Linked DNA regions of Homo sapiens: region 2 is linked to region 1. The links come from fine-mapping of genetic effects on gene expression. A gene starts in region 1. The other region holds a variant in brackets. All regions are shown on one strand. Distances are between the middles of the regions. Region 1 holds the start of ABT1 (activator of basal transcription 1). Region 2 overlaps LOC124901290 (a long non-coding RNA gene).

The links. PIP is the estimated chance that this variant, and not a neighbour inherited with it, causes the effect. A credible set is the group of variants that fine-mapping cannot tell apart.
Region 2: its variant is the best candidate, but not a certain one, in a credible set for the expression of ABT1 in fibroblasts (GTEx, PIP 0.72).

The regions. Positions count from the first base shown.
Region 1 is chr6:26,595,398-26,598,320 of GRCh38, reverse strand. ABT1 (activator of basal transcription 1) reads right to left here and starts at 1,368. Exons shown (of 3, transcript NM_013375.4): 1 at 1,098-1,368; 2 at 211-407; 3 at 1-56. The coding sequence starts at 1,338. RefSeq lists enhancers at 1,080-1,519, 2,077-2,236, 2,337-2,486.
Region 2 is chr6:26,838,892-26,841,814 of GRCh38, reverse strand. The region is part of intron 1 of LOC124901290 (a long non-coding RNA gene); the gene reads left to right. Among named protein-coding and RNA genes, the nearest start is that of TRA-AGC14-2, 12 kb to the right of the region's middle. The variant A/G (reference allele first, on the strand shown) is at 1,387.

The sequences.
Region 1 (2,923 bases):
TGGCGCTCAAAGGCGAGGTGCTCGCTGAGGTGGGACCAGGTGAAACGGTGCAAGTACTGTGGGCAGAAAAGAAGAAAAGATCAGGATAGTGCAGATTAGGGAGAAAGATGAGACAAGGGGACAAGGCCAATGAGAGGCCATGGGGATACTTGGGCCAGAGTTGGGGAGAAGGGAGGGTGAGAGGTGTGGCAGAAAGATCTATCTTCTCACCTTGAGGTTCCAAAGATCATAACGGAAGGGGCTGCGCCTGCGGGCACCCATAGGCGTGTTGTGTAGACTGGCCGCCACGCGCTTGGCTATGCGCTTGTCACGGAACTCCACCCATCCCTCGGTGTAGTCCTTGGTGTAGGACCGCTTTTTTCCTCCGGCAGCTGCTGCTGCCTTCTTCTTGCGTCTCACGAACCGGTCTGCGCGCCAAAGACAAAGACCCGTCCAGGACGCCTATGCAGCACTCACTCAAAAGCACCTCCCACTGCCCGCAACGTTCTTCACATCTGCCAGTGGGAGTCCCACCTGAAGAGTTTTTGCCCAGGAGGAAGGGAACTGTAAATCGCACCCTTTCCTCTAGCTAACTCAATTCTTTCCTTAATTGTCCACTCCTTAATCTGGCCAGCCCTGAACGCTGCTTAAAACCGGCACAAGTCCTCAGCCTCAATGTAAAATTGAGGGTGGAAAGAAGAGGGGCGGTTGATCAAATAGTTTCTTGACCTAGGCAGCAATGCTAAAGAGTTATGTTCAGTTTTGTAGAAAAGCTGACGAGACTTTTACTCAGGTTGTATTCATGTAACAAACCAGTAAACAGGTCCGGAAAGAGAGGTGAACAGAGCCGGGATAAGAACACAAATAGTAACAATCCGAGAACTAAAGAACCACCAGACACACTGCGCTACCCACTCTCCCCATATCCCCTCCGCCCGCCCACCCCAGCATCCTCACAGACTGATTCACCAGCCAGGAGCCAAGCACCGCACTCCCCACCCCCAAAATCCAGCAACTCGTGCCTCAGCCTCGCGCAGCGAAGCAACAGGACATGCATGCTTGCACCCCGCCAGCGAGCGACAACCTCCTCCTGTCACCGTCAGGGCCTGCATACTTACCCTCAGCCTGAAAGAAGACGCGTCCGACCTCGCCATAGGCGCTGAGAAGGTTGCGGACGTGCAGGGGCCGGAAGCGCGGCGGGATATGGCCCAGGTACACAATACCTGGCACTACCCGTTTCTTGCTGCCACAGGCCGCTTCTTCGGATTCCTCCTGCTCCTCCTCCGCATCTAGTGTCTGTTCTGTCCCTTCCAGCGGCTCTTGCTCCGTTGCGGCCTTCTCCGATTCCTCTGCCTCCATGTTGACTGACACGAGCGGCACGACGGCCGTAAAGTGCCTTGCCAACTGACGCAAAACGCGTGCGACGGCCTGAGACGAGGGGGCGGGTCCAAGGTGGTGATGACAAATGAAAGGAAATGATTGGGCAATACAGTCGGGTCCAGGGGAAGGCCGAGGGGAGAGGGAGGAAGTGGTGTGTCAGGTCGGAAGCCTGATTCAGAGCGTGGAAGCGGGATGGGAAACTTGGGTTAGGCTCAGATTCCCGGTCAGATCTCCAACTCAGGACAGGCAGAACCAGAAAAGGCAGATCCCCAAATATAACCTACCCTATAGAACGCCTTGTCGAGACGCTAAAAGGCGGGTTGATGCCGGCTTTTTAGGGAATTTTGCAGAACAATTTTAGAGAAGTTTCTATGTGTTCTAGCGATCAAAATAGCATTTTATTCAAGGGCCCCGGGTGCGATTCCAGCTGAGGAATGACTCACCTTTTAAAGTTTATAAATTTCATTTAAAAATTTTGAGTTTTGAGGTTTTAACTATTTCTGGAAATTTACCTCGGAATTTTGAATATTTTAAAATTTAATTTTGAAAACAGTTCAACTTTGGAAATTTAATTAGATTTAATTTTTGAAAATTTAAGTTGTGAACTTTCAGTTTAATATTTTACATTTGATTTTGTGAATGTCTGAAAATTTAAATGTGTGACAATTATTTGAAGAATTTGTTTGGCATCTATTACACGTGTGTATTGATACATTATCCATATGCATACTTATGTTGCAAATACTTGTCAGAGGCGCACAAGCCTCCAATTCTGGCGACCCCCCGGCGGCGCGCTTATTTCTGCTCTCCCTGGGTCTGTCCTCAGATTCCCTATCAGATCACAAACCACTTTTCCTTCTATGACCTACGCAACCGCAGAACGGACCGGGCCACGGCGGTCCTGCTCCCACCAGGCGGCCTGCGGACCATCCCTAAGCCAAGCTCAGGGCAGTTTTCCCCGCGCGGGCTCGGGTCCTCAGTCTCTTATCGTCGCCCGAGGGCGCGACCAGCAGGGGGCGCCGTCCCCACCCTTGAGGCGTTTCAGTTCTTCCCATCGGCGCCAGCGACAAGCTGACTGCAAAGGACAGTGCTGGGAACCGCGTACAAGTAATCCGGTTAGCTTTCTGGAAGCAGCCCGGGGCGAGTTTGATGACTATCAACATAAATCCGTCCTTGCTGCGGCCTGACAAAATTTCCCATCTCGCTCCAAGAGCGCAGAGTAGCCCAGAGAATGGAAGCAGGGAGTAAATGTGTCCACTATTAAAATCAGAGATGACAGTTTTTGCCAGTCCCCAAGTATATTTCTAAAGTAACAGGGCCCTGCACTCTTTCATGGAGTGTCTAAAAGTCTAATAATAGACTTCTCGAATTCAAACACGCCTGTTTCATTAACTTTATTGAAGAGAACTTTCTGTCAGGTAGGTGTCCACTGCTCCTTTTTTGAAGAGGAGCGGGGTACGATGAGAGCGATAAACTCCGTCTACTGCTATTTAATTATAAACACTGACATCTTCAAAACACAGTACAGTTAATGAAATGAGAACACGTGTTGGGGTGGCTTTAA
Region 2 (2,923 bases), 240 kb before region 1:
TCTGGAATCTGATGCTCTATATGTCTAATGTGTTAGAAGCTCCATTAGGATGTAACAAGATTTTAGCCACATTCCCCGCAGCACTTTGGAGTACTGCTGCTTCATGAGATTTTTCTCTAAAGTAACCTTTCAAAGTCAGCCACAAAACCTCTTATTCTAGATCATACTGGCATCTGACCTTTGTAAACTTACAAGAAAAAATAGGAAAAAGGAAGATGCTAAGGGAGACACAGTTATCTTTTTCAAAATGCAGCTAAACCCACAAGCTACAGAGATATCATGACCTATAAAGTTCAGAGCTGTGTTTTTTTTTTTTTTGTATTTTTGTATTATACTTTAAGTTTTAGGGTACATGTGCACATTGTGCAGGTTAGTTACATATGTATACATGTGCCATGCTGGTGCGCTGCACCCACTAACTCGTCATCTAGCATTAGGTATATCTCCCAATGCTATCCCTCCCCCCTCCCCCCACCCCACCACAGTCCCCAGAGTGTGATATTCCCCTTCCTGTGTCCATGTGATCTCATTGTTCAGTTCCCACCTATGAGTGAGAATATGCGGTGTTTGGTTTTTTGTTCTTGCGATAGTTTACTGAGAATGATGATTTCCAATTTCATCCATGTCCTTACAAAGGACATGAACTCATCATTTTTTATGGCTGCATAGTATTCCATGGTGTATATGTGCCACATTTTCTTAATCCAGTCTATCACTGTTGGACATGTGGGTTGGTTCCAAGTCTTTGCTATTGTGAATAATGCCGCAATAAACATACGTGTGCATGTGTCTTTATAGCAGCATGATTTATAGTCATTTCTTTCTAACAATTACCCACAGCTATTATGATTTGCTCCCATCACTAAAACTGTCATTGCTAAGATAATTGCTCCAGTTTGAGAAGGTAGAAGATTTAACAAGTAACTAATATGTAAAGGATAGAGAGAAGAAGGGGAGAGGTTGATATGATCCCTGTCCTTTCACACTGTTAATATGCCAGGTGATAAAATGTCTCATTCACTCTGAAACATTATCACTATACAGGCACTCCTTACAGTGTTTGTTCTCATATATGTCCTCGTATTTTTTTTTTCTTTTAAAGTGGCTCTGAGAAATGGCTAATGCACAATCTAATTATGTGATAATAAATGTTAATGACAGTATTATCAGATGATAACTAGGCTTCATTAATGTGTCTCATTATGATTCTCAGTCCCTTGTGGAAGATTGTGAAGAAAGCACCTTAGATATTCCAGATTATATTTGAATGTAGTAGTTACAGAGCCCATATCCAGGGAGAAAGGAAGATATCAGAGACACCTTTAAGCTCTTTCTCTAATTTTGCTTCTTCAAACCTAAGCATCCATCAATCACATCTCAAAATTT[A/G]TCATATACCTTCAGCATAATAAAAATAGTAATTATAATAATAGTAATAGTCCTGATATGACAAATAATATGTAAGATCATTTTAGTTGTAACTGCTGATATATTTTGGTATAAGTATGCAGGCATTTATGTCCCAAACATTATGACCTTGATTATCCATAAGCAAGTTCAAATCATTTAGAGAGGATACACTTATTTAAAGGTTTGCACCTGTTAAATTTTGGTTCTGCTACACTATATATATATATATATATATATATATTTTGTTGTTGTTGTTGTTGTTGTTGTTGTTGTTGAAATGGAGTCTCCCTCTGTTGCCCAGGCTGGAGTGCAGTGGCACAATCTCAGCTCACCGTAACCTCCGCCTCCTGGGTTCAAGTGATTGTCCTGCCTCAGCCTCTCAAGTAGCTTGGATTACAGGCATCTGTCAACACGCCCAACTAATTTTGTATTTTTAGTAGAGACAGGTTTCTCCATGTTGGTCAGGCTGGTCTTAAACTCCCGACCTCAGGTGATCCACCCACCTCAGCCTCCCAAAGTGCTGGGATTACAGGCATGAGCCACTGCACCCAGCCAGCTACACTATTCTTAATATTCAAAGTAGCACTGTCAAGTTATCACCAAGATTTCATCACAATTTTTATTATTTTTCTATATTTACCCTCTATTTTAACTATGTAAATTTATCAAATGTTTTAATATTTGAGAGGGCAAATCTACTATCACCGTTATTTAATGTTTTGTATTTTTTCTTAATTATTATATTTTTTAAATTGACGTGATAATTGTACATATTTATGGGGTATGTAGTGATATTTCGATACATACAATGAATAGTTAACAGATTCGTGTAATTCACATATCCATCATGTCAAAATTTATTATTTCTTTGTGATGGGAACATTCAGTTTACCCCTTCTAGCAATTTGAAACTATATATTATTGTCAACTACGGTCATCCCACAATGCTATAGAACACTAGAACTTATTTGTCTCTAGCTTTAATTTTGTATCCCTTGACAAATCTTTCTTTATCCTTCTCTCATCCCACCCTTCCCTGTCTCTAGTATATTCCATTCTACTTTTTCCTCCTCTGAGATCAACTTTTTTTTAGTTTCCACATATGAGTGAGAACATGCAGTGTTTAACTTTCTGTTCTTACCTTATTTTACGTAACATAATGTCCTCTTGATTTGTCGAGGCTGCTTCTTATAGTTTCTATTAGAAATATGTGTGTGTGCGCCTGTGTGTGTATAATGTAGGATATTTTAGGTAACTAAATAGTTGTAAATAAGGCTGAACTGTATTTTTAAGGTTTTATTTGTGACTAATAATTTGTCTTATTAATAAAGCCTAGGTTAAAAAAATAAGTGGAAGACATATCTGTCACACACTATATCTTGGGAGTTTTGAAAAATAAAGTGTTGATTTCAGGCAAAATACTTAGTTCAACTGTAACTAAATCAGCAAAGATGTCATGATTCCATAAGGGATCCACTCTAAATATAATGTTAAATGGAATATTTCATTATATTTT